Linked DNA regions of Homo sapiens: regions 2 and 3 are each linked to region 1. Evidence: fine-mapped expression QTL. A gene starts in region 1. Each other region holds a variant in brackets. All regions are shown on one strand. Distances are from middle to middle.

Region 1 (8,181 bases):
ACCATTATGCTAGGCACAGGAAATAAGATAAAGCCACATCCCTCCAGCTCCTTCCCCTGGCCCATCTCCAGGGCACTCGGCTCATATCGGCAAGCCCATGCTGCTCTGAAAGACTCCGCTGAGCTCAGCTGGCCCAAGTCCCCCATGCACAGAAGATAAGGGACCTCTGAGGTCATATAAAAAGAGCGAGCCAGGGCCAGCGTGAGGGCCAGCCCTCAGGTGGCTCTCTCCACTGCACAGGCTGCAGAGAATGCTGGCACAAATGACCAACAGATGCAAAACTGTGCAGGCAAGGTAGAAGAAGCGGCTGTGGAGGTGACTCCCCATCCCATAAGGCTTAGAGATGCACATACATGTCCCCTACCTAACTCAAAAGCTGTGTAAAACCTAAAAGAACCCACTAACAATGCAACAAATTGGAAACAGGCTTTTCAGGGCCTTGGGACTCCCTGACAGAAGGCACCAGGGTGGCCAGCAGCCCATCTCACTGATAGCAGTGACTCTCTAATGACCATGTTCCAAGGGCTCACAACCCTGCTCCTTACCAACTACTCAGCATTCCTACCAGTCACAAGCCCCAACTATAAGCCTGGCTGGACAGAAGCAACCCTTACTCCCTCTTGGGGAGGCTCCCCAGTTGTTGGCTTCCCCAATTCAAGGTCATCTTACTTCACAATGACACGCTAGTGAAAAATATTGGACTGGAAATGAGAGGTGGGGCTCCAGCCCAGAAGCATTAGCAACTCACAATGGGACTCTGGGACTCCAGGCAAGGCCTCCCTGTTCCCTGGGGCTCAGACTTCCCATTTGAACATATGGGAGAGGTGGTGGGTTCATTTCTTAGGCTTCAGCTCTCATTTCTGTGATTTTGGGAGCAAAGGGGGTCTGTGGAGCCCAGCAGGGGCCTCCGTTCATCAGGGATTCTGAAGGAGCCCAGATGTTCCCTCAAACTCACCAGAGACACTTTCTTCACCAAACTCCTAGTCCTTTCTGAAGCTTGTGCAGACTTAGAACAAATGTTTGCTGAGAACCTACCAGGGGCCAGGCACTTTGAGAGGCACTAAAGAAACATGAAGAAGTAAGAGAATTGTCTTCAAGCAACCATTTTTCAGAGACAGAAAGTGAGTCACAGAGAGGCCTCAAATTTTACTAAAGACAACACAGCTAAGAATTCAACCCCCAGGCTGCCTGATCCCTGCAGGTTATCTCCCAGGGCTCCAGGCCGGGTGAGACTAGCACTGGGATGTGAATACCACCAAAATCCCTTCCAGACACAGGGTATGGTCAGCTCTATGAAACTGGGATCTATTAAAAACAGGCAATCAGAATCCAGGGCAAACGCTGGCTGGCTGAGTGGATCTTCTTCTGAAATGCCCAGCCTGTCCCCCAAACCCATCTCCATACTGGGCCTGGACACTACCTTCTAACGTCCTTCTCTGAACCATCCATCTTAGGCAATGAGTATCAGCAGACAAGAGCCAGCCACGTGACCTCCATAACCCTCATGTACACACAGCACAGTAGCACTGTTCCTGGGCCCACCCAGTCCTCCCACAGCTGCCTTTCTTTTGGGCCCCCTTGTCAGAGAGGCACCAACCCAGGTGAACAGGACTGGTCTGCAGAGGCAGAGCTGGGGTCCTGTCCCGCAAGGACAGCCTTCTCCCAGAGCAGAGCTGACCAGAGCTCAGTTTGTCTCCCTGCAGCCCCATGCGAGAGGCCTCTGGAGGGATGCTCTGAAAGCCACTCCTTCCTACAGGTGGCAGAGGGGTCCCTGCCCTTCAATCTGGGCTTCCCGCCTCTAGGGACTAACCTGGTTTTCAGAGATGTTTTCCTGGGGAGGGAGCCGGGCAGCGGAGAAGCAGTCTCCCCCTCCCCCAGCTCTGGCCGACTGCCAGGGTGACCTCCCCTCCCCCAAGAAGGGCGGTGAGCTGGGAGGTGGGGGTGGGAAGAATCCACCGATGCTCTCTGGAGGAGTGCTGGGAAGCTAGGCAGGGCGTGTCGCCTGGGCCTTTCTCTGCCCAGAGCCAGACTTCACAGCCTCTCGGTGTGAGGTGCCCCTGTATCATTCCCCAAATCGCCTCGAGTTGGGGTAGCCCTCACTGCAATTGCCCAGATCCCTGGGCAGCAAGGAGACTAACAAGCGCCGGCGAAGGGCAGCGGGTCTAGAACCTTCTGTGCCCAGTCGGACGTGAGCCAGGGGAGGTAGGCTCCCCGTTCCCCCATGGCCTGCACTCGCTCTTTCGAGCAGAGACAGGTGTCGCTCTTTTCTCCCCGGTGGCTGTTTGTCCCACGCCCTGGACGTGCCCTTTCGCATGGTTCCCAGCAGGGTCCGCAGGGAACACCCCTCCAGTGCAGCGGAGTGAGGCCCGGCCAGACCCCAGCTTCGCTTCGTTCTCCAAGGGGGGCGCCCGTCGCTCTCCCCACCCCCGCCAGCACCCAGCCACCTGCGCGGTCGCCCGCAGCCGGTGCCGCAGTGTGAGCTAGCCAGCGAGCCCGGTTCCTTCACGCCCTGGCCAGCGCCGCGGAGCCAGCCGCCGCCCTCCGGGCCCCCTGCAGCGCCGCACCTGCACCCACACCCCGGGCCCCCCACCCAGAGCCCACCCTCACCTCCACCCCAGGCTCCAGCGCCTCCTCCGTCCTCACCCTTGGCCCCTCCCCAGCCCGACCCCGCCCCGACCTCCCCATCCCTGTCCCTCTCCTCTACCCTGGCAAGGAGGGGCCTTTCCGAGCCTGGGCCGGGGGTCCCAATGGGGTGGGCGATTGGGCGGCGGGGGTCGACTCGGCGACAAGCCAAGAGATTAAGCCGGGTACTTACCGCTCTGCTCCCCCAAGAACACCAACTTGAATTTTCTCAGTGGATTCCCAAAATCTCCCCCTGCGGACATGGTGCTGGCAGCCGGGGCCGGGAGAGGAGGAGGAGGAAAAAGCGAAGGAGCAGGGAGGGGAGAGTAGGAGGGCGAGGGGAGGCGGCCGGCGGTGCGGGAGCCGGAGGGGGAAGGGCTGGCTGCGCGCGTCCCTGACTCCCCAGCTGCGTCCCGGTCCCGGCCTGCGGCTGCGTGTCCGGCGGCGGAGGAGGAGGAGGAGAGAGAGGCGGAGGCGGAGGAAGGCTGGGGCTGGGCTGCTGCGGTCGGCACTGGCTGCGGTGCGAGGGGCGCGCTCTTTACGCCCGAGGCGCGGCGCTGGGAGAGAGGCGCGGGCGGAGCGGGGCGCAGGGACGGCGCGCGGGGCGGAGGAGCGCTCTCCAGAGCCGCGCCAGTCGGCCCCCTCCCGCCTGCCTCCTCCGCCGGCGCCTGCGCTCTGTGCGCTCCCCAGCCTCTGATGTCATGCGGGGCCCGCGGGGCTGCGGGGCTGGGGGGCGTGCGCCCGCCCACCCGAGCCCGCACCCGGGCAGGAGAGAACCTCCTCGCCGTACCCCTGAGAGCCCCCCGGGGGGGACCGTGTCTCGCTGCCCCGCTGCGTCTGTCTTCCCCACTCTACCCCTCTTTTGAATCCAGAAAATGACAGAAATTGTCAGGGGACATTTGTTTCTGGTCTTTTAAACCTAGATGCCAGTCCCTTCCTCCACCTCGCGAGACACCGATGCACAGCGCAGTCGTCCGACCGACAGGGCGGAAAGGAACGAAGGTGGGGGAGAGCCAGGGTGTGGCGAGGCCCGTCAGGGCGGTCAGACCTAGGGAAACCTGGCGTACTTGGCGCAGATGGGGCTCGACTCTTGCCCCCCGTGGCTTCTAGCCCGCCCTTCCCTCTCGAGGCCTAGACCCTTTATTTGGGCGGCCTCTTGTGGAGTCTGTGGGTGCCCCCGCAGACCTGGCCAGCGAGAGAGGAGCTGCCAATATCAGGCGCGCCTACCTCAAACCAGCTGCTCATTTGGATCATTTTATGCCAAATCCTAACCTGCCCCATGGGAGAGAAGGAACGGTGACGCTCTGAATGCCAGTGCCACTATCTCCAGGACAGTGCCCTGCGTTTCTTGATCCCGGGGTCGCCAGGCTGACAATGCCACTCCCCACCCTGGCAATTAGGTGTATCTGGACAATGAGCTATCTGAGGACATGTGGGCGACCTCTCCTTGGCCTCTACTTGCCTGGTCCATCGAGGCACACAGACCAAGTTGTGAGTGAGTGAGAGCAAAGAGCAGACGCCAAGTGCTAGAAACACTCCCAAGACAGCCCGAGCCTAAGGCATGCTGGTTAATTGAGGTTTTACAAAGCTGTCCCTTACTGTTCTGCCACAGCGTGGTCTTGTTCATTTATGGCTGTTCAGTGAGCATTTATTTGAGATAATAATCTGCATGTCGGTGAACACGATGGTGTGTGCACGCATGTGTTATAGAAAGAGAAAGAGGAGTGAGACACAACCTTCACCTCCAGATTTCTCGTGGACACTTGTTACCCCCTTTTTGACTTATGGGGCTTGCTTGGGCAAGCCTATCTGTCTCCCTGGTGTGCTCACCTCGAATCTCTTTCCTATTTCTTGTTAGAAACCTGACCACAAGTTCCATAAAAGCAGTAGTTGAAGCTCCACCACTGCATCCCAAGGACATAGCTCAGAGTTTAAGAAATAGTTGTTGAATGTTTGAATGAACATCTAGAACTCAAATCAAAATAACTGTCCTATTCTCATAATTACCTTTAGTTTGGAACCCCAGGGATTGTAAGTCATCACCTAGAATATCTGCCCCGTTGTGGCTGGCACCAGGCTCAGGGTAACCCTCCAGACACCCACCCACTTCTCTGGGGCTCCTGCTCTCTTAGGAGACCATATCCAGCTTGGGGTTGAAGAAAGCTCTGAAAGGAGAGGAGACTCCCAAGTCACAGCCCTTCCCGTCTCTATAAGTGATCCCTCCAAAGAAGGGCCAGTGAGCTACTGGCCAAGGTACCCAGCCATGCAACACTCCTCCAACCTGCACCTTCTCCTAACATCTAGTGCTGTCTCCCTGTACCCTCTCATCCTGACCTGATGAGATCATCGGTGGCAAGACAAAACAGCTGAGGTGTGCCAGAAAAGGCACCATCTTTTGGGTAAGCCTAGGCAGGTCCTGTACCTCCTCTGATCATCTGGTCCCGCACATGTAAGGTGGTATGGCAGTAGGGGAGGGAGGGCTGGGGCAGGGCCCCTCTGGGCACCTCTAAGCCTCCAAGTCATCCCATATGCTTACCAGGTCCAGCTGGGCTGACTATGGTCCAGCTTACTTTGGGGGACTCTGTCATAATTCTTCCAGTTCAAATGACAAAAACCCGGCTCCGACTACCGGGCTCACGTCGCTGGAGCAGATACTGGCATTGCTCTCAGAATGCAGTCATCATGCTGTGGAAATGAGAGCCTTAGAGACTCCAAGTTTGCTCTGCTCCAAGTCTCTCTCCTCCAACTATCATTGCTTATCTCCCCTGATTTTGAGTCTTGTCCTTAACCTGCCCTAAAGCAGACAGACTTTCTCCAGGTGGAAAATGGGGCCACTGAACCTCAGCCTGGCAACCTCACTAGAAAGAGTTTCTTCCATATCATAGAATCTGTGCATTCCATTTAAAAAAATTCTTTAAATCTTCCTATTTAGTATGTGCTGTGTATATGTAAGTTACAAAGAAAACCTATCACTCTGAGTGCCCATTTACCCTCTACACAGCTGGAGGGCTCAAATATTATAGTACTTTTCAGGCCCCCAGGTGCTTTCTTCTCCTTCCTCCCTCCCCAACTTGGAAATCCAGAATCTTAGCTTTTCTTTGAGTTTTATCACATTGGATGTGTCCTTCACAATACTTTGTTTTGTTTTGCATCTTTTGAATCTTATATAAGGTATCAAACTGTGTTTTCTGTCCTGACTTGCATGTTTCTTAACATCATGTTTCTGAGATCCATTTGTTAATTCATGTAGCAGCAGTTCTTTCATTTTCACTGCTGGTTAGTATTCTAGTTATGCCCCAATTTTTAAATGATTTTCTGTAAAATGTGTCATTTAAAATTTTTATTTTATTTTATTTTATTATTGTTGTTATTATTTTTGAGATGGAGTCTTGGTCTGTCACCAGGCTGGAGTGTAGCGGCGCCATCTCGGCTCACTGTAACCTCCGCCTCCCAGGTTCAAGCAATTCACCTGCCTCAGCCTCCCGAGTAGCTGGTACTACAGCCACGCACCACCAGGTCTAGCTAATTTTTTTATTTTTAGTAGAGCCGAGGTTTCACCATGTTGACCAGAATGGTCTCAATCTCTTAACCTCGTGATCCGCCTGCATCAGCCTCCCAAAGTGCTGGGATTACAGGTGTGAGCCACCACGCCTGGCCTTTTTTAAAATTATTTTAAATAATTTTATACTCACATAGAGGTTATAAAAAACAGTGCAGGGAGTTACTATGTATCCTGCACCAAGCTACCCCAGTGATAACATCTTACATAACCACATTGCTTAGTAAAACCAGGAAATTAACATTGGAAAATGCACTCAGTTTTGTTTCTGCTATTAACAAACAATGCTGCCATCAACATTCTTTACATGTCTCTTGATGCCTCTGTGAAGTTTTTCTAAGATATGTGTCAGTAGGTAAATTGTGGTATAAAAACAAGTGTACGTTTAATTTTGTGCCAAACTATTTTTCAAAGATATTCGTTAGATCATATAGCACTACAGCATCATCTATATTTTTCATTTTCTTCAAGATCTTGGTTTTCCTGAGCCCTTTGCTGTGTTATATATATATATATATATATTTAAATTAAATTTTTGAGATCATTGTAGATTCACAAACAGGAAAAAAAAAAAAGACAGATCTGTATATCCTTTATCTAGTTTTCACCAAGAGTAAGATCTTGCAGAACTTTATACTACAGTATCATAATGTGGATACTGGAATTAAGACAGTCAAGGTACATTTCTGTTCTGTACCTTGACACACAAAGAGCCCTCATGTTCCCCTTTTATAGCCACACCCACTTTCCTCCCACCCTCAACCCCTTCCTAACCTCTGGCAACCACTAATCTGTTCTTCATTTCAATAAATGTGTTATTTCAAGAATCTTATATAAGTGGCATTACACAGTATATCACCCTTTGGGATTGTTTTTTTCACTTCACCTGGCTGGAGCACTCAAATATTACAGTACTTTTGAGGCCCTCAGGTGTTTCTGCCCCTCCCTCTCTCCCCAGCTTGAAAATCCAGAACTGTGGCTTTTCTTTGAGTTTTTATCACATTTGGATGTGTCCTCCAACAATACTTTTTTGTTTTGCATCTTTTGAATTTTATATAATGTCTCAAACTGTATATTCTGTCCTATGACTTGCATTTTTCTTAACATTATGTTCCTGAGATCCATCTGTTGATTCATGTAGCAGCAGTTCTTTCATTTTCCCTGCTGGTTACTATTCCACTGCATGTCCTATTTTTTTTTTCACATAATTCTATGGAGATTCACCCAGGTTATTGTTTGTAGCAATAGTTAGCTCCCTTTTACTGCTGAGTAGCATTCAATAGTATGGACGTACAGTTTGTTTAACCACTCACCTGTGGAAAGGCATCTGAAATTATTTCCAGTTTGGGGCCATTACAAATAAAGCTGTTATGAACTATCATGTAGAGATTTTTGTGTGAAAGGAAGTTTTTATTTCTCCAGGATAAATGCCCAGGAGTGCACTTGCTGGGTCATATGCATGTTTGTTTTTTAAAGGAACTGCCAGACTTTTCCAGAGTGGTTCTACCACTTTCCACTCCCCACCAGCAATGGATGAGCGATCCAGCCTCTTCTCACCCTCATCAGCATTTGCTGTTGTCAATATTTTAAGCCATTATGAGAGGAATGTAGTAATATCTCATTGTGGGTGGTTTTAATCTACATTTCCAATGACTAATGATGTTCAACATATTTTCATGTGATTAATTGCCATCTGTATATCCTCTTAATGAAATGTCTGTTCATGTCTTTTGTCCATTTTTAAATTAGATTCTTTTCTTTACTGTTAAGTTTTGAGAGTTCTTTATGTATTCTAGATACTAGTTCTTTGTCAGATATGTGATTTACAAATATTTTTTCCCACTCTGCTGGAGTGCAGTGGCACAATCATGGCCCACTGCAACCTCAAACTCCTGGGCTCAAGTGATCCTTCTGCCTCAGCCTCTTAAGTAGCTATGACCACAGAGGTGCGCCAGCACACCCAGCTAATTTTTAAATTTTGTTTTTATAAAGACAAGGTC
Region 2 (8,181 bases), 140 kb before region 1:
TAGGAATGAAAACAGGTGTAAGAAGAGCGTGGCCAGCCCAAGAGAGCTGTGTCCTTGACAGCAGAGTCCCCTCCAGAGACTGCATTGCACTGGCTGTGCTCTGAGTCTGGGGTGGCGAGGGCGGCTTTCTCCCACGGAGCCTGCCAGGTTAAGCCTTCGTAATTGCCTACGGTAAAGTCACGTAGGATTTTTGGCCAGGAGCTGGGCACCTCACCGGGGAAAAGAGAAACACAATCCATCACTCCCTCTATGCAGAAGGAATAGGAATGTGGTGGCTAAGTGCCCTTGCGAGGGAGACAGAGTCAACTGAAGCCAGCAGGGCTGTGCGTGGTCTAGTCAAGTTCTGGCCCTGGGTCCGTGGAGTCCTGGTAGCCACTCTCTACTTGTGTGGGTTGAGGTGGGCCTTCCTTGGAAGTCAAGGCTTCATCCAGGACTGGCCTGTTCTCTTTCAGGCAAACGAAGCGGATGCTGTGACACTGGATGCAGGTTTGGTGTATGATGCTTACCTGGCTCCCAATAACCTGAAGCCTGTGGTGGCAGAGTTCTATGGGTCAAAAGAGGGTAAGTTCTCCCTGGGACCCCAGGAAGGAGTTGTCATCCTTATTCTATATGCTGAGTGCTGTGTTTTACAGGCAGGTTTTGGATATCAGATATAATGAACATTCATCTTTGGAGAGTGAGTAGAGAATGAGGGGCCCTGTCAGCTGCCACAGCCACACATCAAGGCCTCTGGGGGCTTTGGGCTGGCTGAGGACTGGTGCTCCTAAAACTGAGCCCTGGGCCAGGGGCATATGCTTATCAGAGAAACACAGCAGGCTGTGTGCAGCTTGACCTGAAGGCTACTGCGGTCTACTGATATGTCTAGGGTCCCTGGAGGCCTCTGGAGCCATAGGTACCACTCACACAGGAGGGGTCACTCTGGAGCACACACTCAGAGGCCAGCAGCCCTGCAAGTCTTCTGAGATCAACCTGACTGTCTCTGGGCCTGTGCCAGGGGACATGAAATACTTTGATGGGCCTCTGTTACCACAGCTCCAGTTTCCTGGTGGCTGAGGTTGGTAGGTGTAGGCAGACACGCTGCAGGGCCAGGGGAGGCAAAGCATTCAGGACACATGTGCGTGTGGCCTTCTTGCCCCTGTTTGCCTGGAGGGGTAATATTATAAATATTCCTTCTATGGTCTTCTCTCTCCCCTGCAACCCTAGGAAGGTTTTCCTGATTCCCCACTCCTTATCGCCCAGTCCAGTAAAAGCATGGCCTCTCCGCTCCCCTCCCTCCTCAAGAGTCCGGTGGTGATGAGCCATGTTTCCCTGCACCAGGCTGAGGGCCTTCCATTCACACTGTGCCTTTGCAGATCCACAGACTTTCTATTATGCTGTTGCTGTGGTGAAGAAGGATAGTGGCTTCCAGATGAACCAGCTTCGAGGCAAGAAGTCCTGCCACACGGGTCTAGGCAGGTCCGCTGGGTGGAACATCCCCATAGGCTTACTTTACTGTGACTTACCTGAGCCACGTAAACCTCTTGAGAAAGGTAAGCTGGCAGGAGTCTGGGTGCCCTCGAGCAGCTGCCTCTGCTCCAGATGCCCACACAGGCTGCACTAGACAGTCACCATCAGCAGACATGTGGGATGAACTCAGGTGGGGGAAAGAGGTTAACAGACTTTAAACTGGCAGGTCTGCTGCACCAGCAGCACTTGGGAGGTGGAGCTGAGCTTTTTTCTGCTCTGAGCTTCCAAAACCCCAGCAGAGGCTGTTCTGATGAGTGAGGAAAGGGCGCAAGGCTCGGCAGAGGGTTTCAGTCTAGGCGATGGTGGTTCTCTTGTCCACTTCTCTGGATTTCTTTCCTGGAGGTTTCTCTGGAGCCCTGCACCTCTCTTAAGCAGTTCTCATGTCTGGGGCATGGATCCCAGAGGGGACCTCTCTCTGAGCTGTTCCAGCCTCTGACAAAGCAGGGAGAAGGTGCTCTGAGAAAGACCCGAGATAGGCCTTGGTTAGTGGGAAGCATAGGCCTGTTTCCTCTGATGGATGGTGGCCAGACAGAGGTCAACTTGTTCCTATTAGAAATCCTTGATCTTGATGAGTTAGCATAAGGGCAAGCTGGGGCTGCATGTGCTGGTTTGGTTTTAGTCCCCTCTGTTCCCTGATGGGCCTGGGTGGGGTGATGCCATTGGCTGTGGCCAGCCTCACTCATGCTCTGTTGTCCATTTCTCTGTGCTGAGCAGCAGTGGCCAATTTCTTCTCGGGCAGCTGTGCCCCTTGTGCGGATGGGACGGACTTCCCCCAGCTGTGTCAACTGTGTCCAGGGTGTGGCTGCTCCACCCTTAACCAATACTTCGGCTACTCGGGAGCCTTCAAGTGAGTGAGATGTCTGCTGCTCCATGGTGGCCAAAGTGCCAAATGTCCTCAGGGTGAGAGTTCTTTGCTGGTCCAAAGCCGAGCCCTGCCTGCCTACAGGGGCATCGAGGTGGCCTAATCCCCTCCCAGTGAGTCAGAAGCACAACCTGGGACTCCTAGGCCAAGCCAGCCCATGTTCCCTTTCATCTGACCCTGACAAGTAGGTCCTTTTCCTGGGGACCCTTCCTTTCTCCCCAGAGCCCTCAAGCCTGGTCAGTGTCTCCTCTCGGTGGATCGGGCAGAGCCTGAAAGGACAATCATGCCTCTAGTGTCTGGGCCCACTGTCCAGGGACTGGCCCTCTTCCCTCAATCTCAGCAGTGTTACCTGCTCAGCACACTGCCTGTCTCCTGCCCCCATCACCGTCTCTATCTGGGAAGCTGATTTCTTGCTTTCTCTTTTTACCTTGATTATATCCTAAAGTTTTACAACCAGCCAAAGGCACATTTTCACCCTCAGGAGACACTATACCATTATCTTCTATTCCAGAAGTTTAAAAGCTCTTTTCACATGAAAATATCTTCAGTTGCATTTTGCTTCTTTGGGTTATGAGGGCTTTTTATCTCGTGTGAGCTCATTCCCCCATCTCAGCACTACGCTGGAGGTCTGCACACCATGGTGTTGCTTCAGCTACGGGGCTGCACCAGGCTCTATCCTAGTGTGAGTGCTGGACAGTGTGATCAGACTCTCCAGGTGCAGGAGAAGGGCCTGCCCTGCAGGAGCCCTGCTGATGTGTTTCTTTGACCCAGGTGTCTGAAGGATGGTGCTGGGGATGTGGCCTTTGTCAAGCACTCGACTATATTTGGTAAGAATGGGACAAGAATCCACCAGGGCCACTCCAAGTAGTGGGTGTTCTTTTTCTGTGTTCCCTTTTTCATGCTCAGTAATTGGAAATGAGCATACTGTATTTCTCCTTTATCATTGCCTGGGTTTCCACCTGTGCAGAGTTAGGTACCTACGGGGTCCCCATCTGGATTCCTGGGCCTCTTTCCATCATTCAATCTCTCCACACGGTGCCTCTGCCTCTGGGGTAGTGTTGCCATAACCAAAGACTGGGGGTTGGTGCTGCTAAGATCAGGCTCATGGTGGAATGAGGAGCAATCACTGCTACATGGGCATCAGAAGCCTTTACCTGGCTGTGGGCTCTTGAGCGAGTCATTCTCCCGCATGTTCTCTGGCCTTCAGTGCTCACTCCAGACCTCTCAGCTCATACTTTCTATGATCAATTGAATTTCAAGGATGGGCACCACAGCCCATGGCTCTCCTGTGTTAAGCTCACCTGGGCTTTCCCTCCCCAGAGAACTTGGCAAACAAGGCTGACAGGGACCAGTATGAGCTGCTTTGCCTGGACAACACCCGGAAGCCGGTAGATGAATACAAGGACTGCCACTTGGCCCAGGTCCCTTCTCATACCGTCGTGGCCCGAAGTATGGGCGGCAAGGAGGACTTGATCTGGGAGCTTCTCAACCAGGCCCAGGTATCCCCACCTGCCATCCTCCCCTCCAGCTTAGTGCTCCCTGCTTGGATTTGGGGGTTTTCCTCCTGGCCATCTTGTCACTCTGGAAGTCTGTGTGTTCAGGATACAGTGGGAGCCATGCCACATGTCACTAAGTTCTCTAAAAGCTGGGACTCCCCACAGAGCAGCAGGGAGCCTGCTGTGGTGCTACCGTCTGCCGCCCTTGCCTTTCTGGCTGGTGACACCTGAAGAGGCTCTGTATTGCTCTGTTGCATTCCTTTCTACCTAAACTTCAAGGCCCAAAGCTAAACCCCTCCCCAAGGAGGCTTTCCATGACCCTCCCAGAAGGAAATGGTCTCTCTCCCCATGCCCCTCAGCCCGGCTGTGAGGGGGCTGCCTGCACAGCGGCTTTACTTCCCAAGAGCTGTGTGATTTGGGCTCAGCCAGCTTCCTCTTGCCGAGCCGTCCCATCTGTCCACTGAGAGTTTGACTGGTAACCACACAGGGCAGCCTCTGGATTAGCCACGTTTCTTGTTCTCACCGATGTCTCAACCCGTTCCGGGAGACAGGCACAGAAGCAGGTTCAGG[C/G]AAATCGCGGACCCACGAGGGCTACAGGCAGAGGAAGTGCTGGGTGAGCAGGAGCAGGTCCGACTGCCCTCTCTCCTGGCATCTTGAACTTTTTCATGTTGTTTCCTGCAGAGATTTCTTTTCTCTTCAGTCCCATTTCTCAGCCTCCTTTCTTCTGTGTTGCCATCCACTATTCTGTTTTTCTATGAACAGGAACATTTTGGCAAAGACAAATCAAAAGAATTCCAACTATTCAGCTCTCCTCATGGGAAGGACCTGCTGTTTAAGGACTCTGCCCACGGGTTTTTAAAAGTCCCCCCCAGGATGGATGCCAAGATGTACCTGGGCTATGAGTATGTCACTGCCATCCGGAATCTACGGGAAGGCACATGTGAGTACCTGGGAAGAACCAGGTGACCACAAGCACTTGGGAAACCTGGTGAGCACAGGGGCCAGAGATTGAGTCTTTTCAGGGACCTGCACGCCTCTCCTGATGCTCCTTTTTCTGACCTGTCTGTGAGCCCAGTGTTAGACTGATGCTGAATGGCGTTAGTCATTATGAGATGGCCTTGATGTCACCATGGGCTTTACAGGAAATCCACATTTAAAATGACGTGGGTTGGTTCCAGTATTTCCTTTGCATCAATCAGGACTGCCTTACCTACTCTGTGAAGGCAATTAGCTTATCACAGAGTAAGTGAAATAGAACAAAATTGCTATATATTGCACATCTCCAGCCAGTCAACATGTACCATAATGAAGAGGTGCTCTAAGAGAGGTTGATCCCAGTCCTGGATTTCACTGAGTCACTGTGGTTTTGCTTGACCATTCATTTATTCAGCAGACATTTATTGAACATCTAGCCATATGCTCTGCTAGGTGCTGGACATAGGATGGCATGACAAATATATATTTGATTCTGTTGTCCTGGAAATTTCAAACTGGGGAGAAGATAAATGTTTAATGAATAGTCATGCTATTGGATGATGAATTACAAAGTAAGAGATATGTTTAAAAGGGGAAAAATATGACAACAAAATACCATGGCCCTATGAGACTGCAAAACAAAGAAAAATAGGCCCTGGACTTGGCGTTAAGGCAAAGCTTCCTTGAGGAAGTGACTCTTGAGCTCAGTCTGAAAGATGAGCAGATGTACATTTATTCATCAGACATTTATTATGCTGACCATGTGCTAGCATTGCCCTAACCCTGAGGATGCCCTGGTGAACAAGACAGGCAGGGCCCTTTCTGTGTTGGAGCTTCTGTTCTCCTGCAGAAAACCTGACAATAAACAATGAACATATAAATAAGAACACCTCCAGTAGTTAAGTGCTATCTGAAAAACAAGAAGGAAAAAAACAGCCAGAGGTCATATAGTGCCCAGAGGCTGGAGAGGAAAGTTGGCTTCTCGGAAGACATAAAAAACTAAATTTAAATGAGAAGTCAACCAAGAGATTGTGCATTGACTTTGCTTTCTAAGGTGATTAATTCCTTGAATGGGGTCTGTTTGTTTATTGCTGGCAAATCCCAGCATTTGCATGAAGACAGTGAGTAGTGCTGACAAACACCAGGCAACAGCTAGGGCCGCTTCTGATCTTTGTTCTTTTTTTATGCCATAGGCCCAGAAGCCCCAACAGATGAATGCAAGCCTGTGAAGTGGTGTGCGCTGAGCCACCACGAGAGGCTCAAGTGTGATGAGTGGAGTGTTAACAGTGTAGGGAAAATAGAGTGTGTATCAGCAGAGACCACCGAAGACTGCATCGCCAAGATCATGGTATGTCACTCCAGCCTTCCTAGGGCAGCGTCCCTGTCATTGCTGCCTGCTGGCCCCCAAGACTGAGCTAGGGAGTGTTCCTGGGAATGATGCAAAAACCTGGCTCCCAGGAACCTTGCCCTGACTATGTGAGCACAGCCCCACCGGAGGTTCAGAATCTTTGAGCTTGTGGATCTGAAGGGTGCCCACAGGGCTCAGTTTCCTCCTTGTATGAGTGTATGGTGAAAGGGCAGGCTGAGCAGTGCCTGCTTAGGGAGGCTGGACCATGGTGTGGGTGTCCTGAGACCAGTGGTGTGCCACGATCACTGAGATAAGATCCTGAGTACATGGTAGGATCCAATCAGGTACAAATTTGCTTTGTTGATCAAAAGAGTATCCTAGCCTGGCATGGTGGCATGCACCTGTAGTCCCAGCTACTTCGAAAGCTGAGGCAGGAGGATTGCTTGAGCCCAGGAGTTCAGGGCTAGCAACTTAGCAGGACCTTGTCTCTAACAACATTTTTTTTTTAAGAAAGAATATTCCATGTTGGCTTACAGAGAATTTTTAAAATCCTGAATGATATAAAGAAGAAATAAAAAGTACTTATAATCATGTAATTCAGAGAAAATTCCCTTATTGGGATCATTTCATGTAGGTTGCTTGCTACCTTTTACTCACTCACAGTATCTAGTAAGCTTTTCCCATATCATAAATCATTCTTGTAAAACCTAATCTGGAGCTTCTGTGTTAGTGCACACATCGAGATGGGGGAGTATGGTTTGCCTAGAGAGAACATGAAGTGCCAAGCTCCACTCCCCCTCCTCCCCACATTTCTTGCCCTCTGTGTCTCTTCCATTTGGCTATTCTTGAGTTGGATCCTTTATAATAAATCAGCAAATATATTGAAACAAAGATGCATATTATAAAGGTACTTCCTGCCATTGTCAACAGATTTTTGCTGAAATATGTTAATTCTACTTTTTGAGCACTTATGAATAACCATGTATCTTCAGAACTATCTACCATGAAGCAAAAAGGGACCATCAAGCTCATTATTTTATATTTCATACAATTTATAGATATCACTTTATGCTATTTTAACATATATTCCATTTTAATTTTTGTCTGAGTCAAGACAAGAAAAACCAAACTAAGTTAAAGCAAAGCCTACAAATTCAAAACCTGAGTCTATACAAATCTGTTAGCAGTTTGAGTGGCTGGGCTTCAATATTATACTCTGGATGTGATACAATAGATAAAGTTTTTTACGTCTGTAAAAAAAAGGAAGAGCAAAAGACTCTTGGGAACATGTGAAATCTTAAATGAAGATTAAGTACAACCAAATGTAAACATATTTTAAAAGGTTCTTCTTGGACATCATAATTTGCTCTCCTATGAAGATGTCATCGTTTGAGCCTTTAATGTTGGAAATAGCTTACAGATGTTGGGGCAGAAACCAAAGACCAACATTGCCATGTTCTGTGAGACCACGTCCAAGTGGATGATTGCTGGATAGGTATGTTTCATGCATAACATTTAGTTCATAAAATTATATGCTACTTTAGGAGGTCCAGGGCCCATGGATTAATGAAACAAAAGTAACTAATCTCATTGCTAGTAAAGAATTATTGGAAACAAAGTTGAAAGACATAGTTTATTTGGTCCCACACCTGTGACACATCATCACTGTCAATGGGAAGCCACTGACCTGTCCCAATTTCCCAAGGTTGTTATCATGGACATCATGGCTGCAGTAGAAAGTGAAGGTGAGTGTGGAAAACAGATCCCAAAGTGACCAGTGCCCTCGGTTATTGCAGTAATCATGTTCATGAGTAGACACACAGGACTTCCAAAGGGAGTCATCATCTCGCATAGAAACATCATTACTGGTATTACTGGGATGGCAGAAAGGATTCCCAGACTGGAGGAGGAAGATGACTACATTGGATATTTACCTGTGGCCCATGTTCTAGAATTAAGCTTTGAGCTTCTTTGTTTTTCTCATGGATGCCTGC
Region 3 (8,181 bases), 22 kb before region 1:
GGGAAACCGCCCCCATGATCCAATCACCTCCACCTGGTCCTGTCCTTGACACGTGGGGATCATGGGGATTACAATTCGAGGTAAGATTTGGGTGGGGACACTCTGCTACAGAATGGCCTACAGAAGCCAGACTAGGGGCAGAAATCTTGCCAGAGATGGAGGATCTCAGTGAACAATGCAGAGGTGGTGGGGCTGGAGAGAATGGGGAGGAGAGCAGGGTACAGGACCAGTGACTGGTCAGATTCAGAGAGGAGCCCAGAACTCCTCCCTGTGACCTGGGTTCATGACCATTAGATGCTAGAGCTATCCCCTGAGCCCAAGACAACTGGACAAGGAACAGACACCAAGCAATCACCTTGGATTCAGTCACTCATAAAAGCCTTCTTCATAATTGTCAGAGCAAAAGCACAAATGCCAGCACTGCATTCAGAAAAAACAATTAACAATAATCATTCAATCCCTTGTCCTAAAGATGTAAGCTTATTTTTCACTATTGGCATCAGCATGAAACAGTTATTTTTCTTACCCTAGTGAGAACTACTGGCCCAGGGGTCTTGCACATCCATGGGGATGTCCAGAGGAGCTTGGTCCCATGTACCCTGGAAATCCCACCAATGCAGGGTGCACTGGATGCTGGCCCTTCACAATCAGCTACCACTGCCTACCTGGACCTCACCAACAGGGGCCATTCACTCCACCAGTGCCCCATGGGCCCCAGGCCCCCATCTCACTGGCAGGTCCCAGGTAAACAGATTCTTGTACATTCTGGTGGTTTCTAGGTAGCTGCAGAGGCCAGTGAGGCTTCTCCAGCCACTCAGCAAACACCCACTGGGGCTCACTGTGTGCCAGTCCTGTTGTGCAGGGCACAGAATTTGTAGTGACAAAGCAGATGCACCTCTGGCCTCAAGCAGTCCATATCCAGTGGTGAAGTGAGACCCAGATCCAAATACTAAAATGCCAGGCAATACGGGAAGGGTCTCCTGAGAGGCCCATGCAAGGAAAGGCCGCTCTGCTGGGGAAATCACAGTAACCTCCTGAAAAAGGCACCATTTGGGCTGAGCCTTGATTGATGGAGATGAGGGGGTCACAGGGAACAACATTCCCGGGGAAGGGACTGGATGAAACGACAGTCATGTGAGGCTGAGATTCCTCTGCTTAAAATCATTTGCCCACATTTCTCCACAGCTGCCACGTGACGCCAAATCCACCCACAGCTTTGGGGCCAGTGGCTATGAGGACTTCTGGTCTTGTCTTGTGCCCACATCACAGTCTGAAAGCTGAGTGGGCAGTAAGTCCCCAGACTCCTCCACTGACACTGCCTCCCTCCACGAAGGACAGCTCTTCTCCCTGTCGCCTCCACAGCGGGTGTGGGTGTGGGTGGAGAGGCTGCTGTAAGGGCCAGAAACTGGGGAGAGCAGGGGGCAGAGCACAGACATTAGCCAGAGACTGCACGGAGGGTTTGCCAGGACCTGGCAGAAGGTGTACCACCCACTAGCTAGCCCCTCACAGAGCCAAGCCAGAACCCTGGCCCACAGTCTGCTCTCGGCTGTGCATCCACACTTACCACACACACCAGCTCTTCAGAGCTCCTGGCCAAACAGTGGGATCCTGATCCTCCTGGGGTCCACAGAGCTGGGCTCAGGGCCTAGGGCCCCAGGAGTTCCGGGAGGAGAGGGCAGGCAGGACAGATGTGGCATAACTCACTGCCATTTCTAAGCCATCTTGGTGGGCTGCCCACCTCTCAGATGCCTGTGTTTTCAGGAAATCAGTCCCTGAGCCAGGAAAAGAATCTCTGCATCCCCGGCCCACAGCCCCCAGCAGCCAGGCCCATTTCAGATAATGTCTGCAGCTTTCAGAAGGTGGTGCTCAGGGCTGAAAAGGCAAGTCTGCTTCCTCATTGTGCAGACCAGTAACCCAGTCCTAGCAGAGACCCGCTGACTCAGCCATCCCATCAGCTCAGTTTCTAGAACAGAAGTGGGAATTGCTGGTATAAATGCTAGGAAGGACCTGCAGAGGGACTCGGCCCTTGCCATGCAGCTGGGAAGGAGGCCAGGCTACCCGCATCCCTGCTGCACAGGGCCCTTGGGGTGAGGCCTGCACCATCCCTGTAACCTCTGCTCATAGTCTACCATTCCTGGCCTGACTGTGAGGTACGGCCCCCAGGCCCTGTGGTGACAAGTGAAACAGTTAGAGACACCAGCTATATCCATCTGAACCTTGTTTCCTTTGGCTCTGTTTTCACCAAACAGAAAGTCCAGCCCTATTCTTCCTCAAAGGTGGGTAAGCTTGGTAGCTGGGCTATCTGCTCCACACCCTACCCTGCCACCCTGGACTCCAAAAGGCAGCCCCAAACTGGGCATGCATCTTTGGCAGCTCCCACTAGAGCCCTGAGGGGCTGGCTGGCTCACCGTAGGCTAAATGAGGAAACACGTGAAAAACCCCATTTCAAACCATCCCCCAAAAGACTCAGATGGTAATTAAGAAATATGCAAAGCTCTTCATTGGACATTTTAATTAAGTGTGTTAATTCCCTCTGCTAGAGGACGCTCAGCCGCCTGGGCCTCACCCAGGGATCCAGAGAAGATGGAAAGGGGAGGGTAGAGGGGAGGGAGGAGTCAAAAGAAGGTGAGGGAGGGAGGGGTTAGCCAGACAGTGGCACAGGCTGGTCTGGCCCAGGCCCTTCTCCTGCACCAGCTAGGAGGCGGACCGATGCCTGACCCTCTCACTTCTCCACTGAGTGCCCCGTCTCACTATCCTGCACCCACCCCATCTCCTCTATCCAAACAGGGGGCCCAGTAAGCCTGCCCACTACAGCAAGAAGGAACAGGGCGAGTGCATCCTAAAGGATCCCATCCACGTAACAGTACATGGACAAGAGCAGAAAAAGGAAAGGCAAAATAAAGGTCCCTTGTCATCACGAAAACTAAGATTCTAGACAGGAGTGTTCCCAGGATGGCTGGTCCTCCAGCTCCTCCTGAACACTTTCAGCAGCTCTGTGGTTGCTGGGGACATGACGGTCTGCTGGGGCTCCACAGGGTGACTGGCTGGAGACTGGAAGATTTAGTCTCAGTTTTCCTTCCTATACCAACACCCTGGACCTCCTCCTGCTTTTTTTCCCCCAGAGGCTCCACCTTTAACACAAAGAGGCAAATTCCAGAGAAACATGCTGCCAGCACAGCTGGGCTGGGAGAGGCCCCATCCTCAGGTACCTGACCAAAGCCCCAGCCGCCACAGAGGAGGGCTCGGCCCCCTCTCCTGCCCTGCAAAAGGTGCTATCATCTTTGGTTTTCTTCTTTTCCTCTCTAGCTTCCTCTCTTCCTGCCTCTACCCCAAGGTTTACTGAGGTACAATCAATAAACAAAAAAATTTATATATTCAAGGTGTAAAATGTGACGTTTTAATATATAGAGAGTTGACCCTTGAAGAAGGCAAGAGTTGGGGCACTGATACCCTGCATAGTCAAAAATCCTCATACGACTTTTTAGTCCCACAAAACTTAACTATTATAATAGCCTACTGTTGACCAAAGCCTTCCTGATAACATAAACAGTTGATTAACAGGTATTTTGTGTTATATGTATTATATACTCTATTCTTAAGATAAGCTAGAGAAAAGAAAATGTTATTA[C/A]AATCATAGGGAAGAGAAAATAGATTTACTGTTCATTAAGTGAAAGTGGATCATCATAAAGGTCTTCATCTTCATTGTCTTTACGTTGAATAGGCTGAAGAGGAGGAGGAAGGGAAAGGGTTGGTCTTGCTGTCTCAAAAATGGCAGAGAAGAGGTGAAAGAGGTGGACAGGGAGGCAGGACAGGCAGGCACACTGGTGTGAATTTTACTGAAAAATATCTACCTTTAAGTGGATATGCATAGTTCAAACCCATCTTGTTCAAGGGTCATCCATCTATCTATCTATAGTCATGCTTTGCTTAATGAGAGGGATAAGTTCTGAGCAACGCATCATTAGGTGACTCTGTCGTAGTGCAAACATCATAAAGTATGCTTCCCAAACCTAGATGGTACAGCTTACTACACACCTAGGCTATAATGGTACCCTATTGCTTCTAGGCTACAAACCTGCACAGCACATTATTGCAGTGAATACTGTAGGCAATTGTAACTCAGTGGTATTTGTGTATCCAAACATATCTAAACAGCAAAGGTACAGTAAAAGTATGGTAAAAAACATAAAACATGAACAGAGCCATAGGACTGGAAGTCGTTCTGGGTGAGTCAGTCAGTGAGTGGTGAGTAAATGTGAAAGCCTATGACATTACACTACAATAGACTGTACATTTAGGCTACACTAAATCTATTTAAAAATATTTTTCTTTAATAATAAATTAACCTTAGCTCACTACAACATTTTTTACTTTATAAACTTTTTAACTTGTTTTAACATTTTGACTCTTTTGTAATAACACTTAGCTTAAAATACATACACTGTACAGCTATGCAAAAATTATTTCTTTATATCTTTATTCTATATGTTGTCTATTAATTTTTTTTTTTTTACCTTTTAAACTTTTTTTGTTAAAAACTAAGACACAAGCATACACATTAGCCTAGGCCTACATGGGGTCAGGATCACCAATATCGCTGTCTTCCACCTCTCCGTCTCCCACTAGAAGGTCTTCAAGGGCAGTAACACACACGGCGCTGTCATTTCCTGTGATAACAATACTGCTTTCTGGAGGTCCTCCTGAAGGACCTGCCTGAGGCTGTTTTACAGTTCCCTTTTTAAAAAAAGTGAGTAGAAGGTGTACACTCTAAACATAACAACATAAAGTATAGCATAGGCAATACTAGACAACAGGAATTTTTGAGCTCCATTATAATCTTATGGGACAACCTTCATACATGCGGTCTGTCGTTAACCAAAACATTGCTATGCAGCACATGACTATATATACATTGTGAAATGATTACCACAATCAAGCTAATTAACATATTCATTACTTCACAGTTACACGTGTGTGTGTGTGTGCATGTGTTAAGAATACTTAAGATCTACTCGACAAGACACAGACAAATATTGCATGATCTCACTTATATGTGGAAACTAAAAAAGTAGAACACATACAAGCACAGGGTAGAAGGGTGGTTACCAGGGGTCAGAGGTGGGGAAATGGAGGAAATGCTGATTAGAGGGTACAAATTTGCAGTTATAAGAGAAGTTCTGGAGACGCACTATACAGCATGGTGACTCCAGTTAATAATAATATATACTTGATATTTCCAGCTTTTCTTCTTCACTTTCCAAAGCCCCCAGGCCCAGCCTGCACATCAGTCTTGGCCTCAGCCCTTCCATACTCCCATAGAGCCTTATGAGCTCTCAGGACACTGCAAATCATCCCTGCCCTGGGGCTTCTAAACTGAGAGTCCACACCTGACTTGAGATTTCTTCTTGTCCCCCAGCCTGAAGCAGACACTCAGGGCACTAGGGACAATCCATTTCCCTACCTGCTACAGCCAAGTCTGCTGTGAGGACTAATGACTTGGGGTACATTGCCCACAGAATGCATCCCATTACCTTACCCTAAGAAACGCTGGTGCCAAGAGTCAACCCCAGCTTCAAAATCAGGCAGAGGAGAACCGAACGCACTCGTGTGGAGGGAGAGGCAGTACTATCCGGCATGCGACTACTGTGCACAAGGAGTACTTGTACTTATGACTCATGAAAATAAGATTTGAAAACGTAATTATTTAAAATAGTATCAGAATAAAGTAGCTATGTATCAATAACAATGAAAAGCCTCCCAATCCCTCTGAATACCCCTACTGTGTTTGGGGAGGTCCAAAACCATTCTCCCCAGTGTAGGAGCCTCCTCTGCAGCTATTTTGTAGGCAAATAACTGAGGCTTCTCCCAACAGATGTTCACGTAAGACTCTACCAGATTCAACTGACATGAATCTGGTGAGACTGAGAATTCCCTCTGTATTCTAAATTCAGGGGCAGCCATGACATGCATTTCAACATTGGCACCTGCCAGAACACAGCATAGGAGCTGTGTCTCCCCCGGACCAGTTCTATATGACTCGGGCTGCTGCTCCAAGCCCAGATCTCTGACCCTCCCAAGGATTCTATGAACTTCCCAATCATTCCTCTAATACATTCACTGCTTGCTCAAATCTGCTGTATAGAGAGAGTTTCTCTCTCTTATTCACAACTACAAATGCTGAGAGAGATAAAATATAAGGCAAAAGTTATGTAAGCTAAAAAGAGAAAGCTGGACCACAAATTTGCTTACAAAAAAAATCTTGAAAAATCTTCCCTAATTATTGAAGGTAGACTAAGAAACTGTCTAAGCTCCCTGGCAGTCAAAGGGGAAAAAAAGAAGCACAACCAAGGGTAAGATTCACAGTGTTCAGGAGATAAAACTATATCAATTGCCAATATTGAGCTTTTTATAAGAGCTGGGCAGCAGAAAGTTCTCAAAAAGAGTCTGGAGTGCAGAAATTTTGTTGCCACTTGGAGGGCAAGTCTACATATTTATACAATCAACTGGATGAACATCCCAGATGAAAATCAAGGCTGATAACCAGACCACGCAACACTGCCTGCCCAGACTGATGTTCCCTATAAACAAATGAATACACACACAAAAAAAAAAGGTCCCAAGACTTTAGCTCTGGTCAAAATGGAGTAACAGGGACCAGATTTAGCCTCTAACCTGAAACAACCAAAAGACAGACAAGATATATGAAACAACAATTTTCAAGCCACAGGATATTAGGTAATGATGACCCCTGAGATACATGAAACAGAGGAGGGGAGCCCCACAGATTACTGCCCTCAGAAAATTCCAGGCCACAGCACAGGGAGTGGGGACCCAGGTGAAACCCACTGGAAACCCTAGGTTGAAAGGATAGGGCTGAGGCTCAGAGAAAACACAGCAGCTAGAGTTCAGAAGATGGAATACCAGAGAGAGGGAGATGCAGAAAGGGAATGGCAGAGACCTGCAAAGGGTTTCCCTCAAGCCTTCGGCTGAGCACTGATCAGCAAATGTATATGAGGAAACTACTTGAGACTGGGGAAAGACTGCCCAAATGGACTAGAGGAAACAGTGCTTGGCATCCACACCAGGCTGGAGACTGTGCTCTTGCCCAGCAGCCAGAGTGGAAAGTCTCATCATTTACGGGATGCTGGGGAGAGTCCTCAGAAGGGCTGGGCCTCACAGTGGGTAATAATTAGCCATACACTGAGCCCTACTCTGGCCACAGCTAGCAAATCTTAAGAATATTTATAGGAACAGAAAAACTATCCACACACAACAAGGCAAAAATCACAATGTCTGGTATCCAATAAAAAATTATCAGGCATGTAAAAAAGCAAGAAAATAGACTCATAAAGAGCAGAAAAAACAATCAACTGAAACCAACCCCAAACTGACAGAGATGTTATAATTAGCAGATAAAGATATTAAGAAATAGTTATTATATATTATAACTGTTATATAATATATATTATATATAACTTAGTTATTATATATAGAATATATGCTATATACTATATGTTAGTATAATAACATATAGTATAATATGTTTAAGAAGTTACACGGGGTAAAAAATAGATTTTCAAAGACACAAATCAAACTTCCAGAGGTAACAACTACACTGGCTGACATGATTAAACAGATTAGATGTTGCAGAAGAAAAGATCAATGAACCTGAAGACAGTAATAAAAATTACCTAAAGTGAAACACAGTGAAAAAAGAATGACAATAAATGATAAGAACACCAGTAAGCTCTATGATAATGTCAAGTGGTCTAACATCCATGTAACTGGAGTCTTCAAAGGATGAAGGGAGAGGCAGTGACAGAAAAAATATTTGAAGAAATGACTGAAAATACTCCAAAATTAAAGAAAACTATACATCCACAGATTCAAAAATCCCAAGCACAGGAAACATAAAGGAAATTACAGCAAGGCACATCTTAGTCAAATTGCATAGTCAGTGACAAAAAAAATCATAAAAGTAGTCAGAGAAAAAAAGACACATTATGTACAGAGAAACAAACATAAAAAGGACAGTATATTTCTCCTCAGAAACAATGCAAGCAAGAAGGCAATGGTGCAATATCTATAAAGTACTGAAAGAAAAAAACCTGTTAACCTAGAATTCTATGTCCAGGGACAACATCTTTCAAAAACAAAGGTGAGATAAAGACTTTTTCAAAC

The links.
Region 2: its variant is fine-mapped to the expression of RAB6B in esophagus mucosa (GTEx, PIP above 0.99).
Region 3: its variant is fine-mapped to the expression of RAB6B in lung (TOPMed, PIP above 0.99).

What each region holds. Positions count from the first base shown.
Region 1 is chr3:133,892,582-133,900,762 of GRCh38, forward strand. RAB6B (RAB6B, member RAS oncogene family) reads right to left here and starts at 3,301. Exons shown (of 8, transcript NM_016577.4): 1 at 2,816-3,301. The coding sequence starts at 2,885. RefSeq lists a silencer at 3,271-3,320.
Region 2 is chr3:133,753,143-133,761,323 of GRCh38, forward strand. It overlaps TF (transferrin), which reads left to right. Exons shown (of 17, transcript NM_001063.4): 3 at 453-561; 4 at 1,353-1,529; 5 at 2,221-2,353; 6 at 3,140-3,195; 7 at 3,689-3,867; 8 at 4,627-4,804; 9 at 6,033-6,187. Among named protein-coding and RNA genes, the nearest start is that of TF, 11 kb to the left of the region's middle. The variant C/G (reference allele first, on the strand shown) is at 4,435.
Region 3 is chr3:133,870,302-133,878,482 of GRCh38, forward strand. All of the region lies in intron 1 of RAB6B (RAB6B, member RAS oncogene family), which reads right to left. Among named protein-coding and RNA genes, the nearest start is that of RAB6B, 21 kb to the right of the region's middle. The variant C/A (reference allele first, on the strand shown) is at 3,629.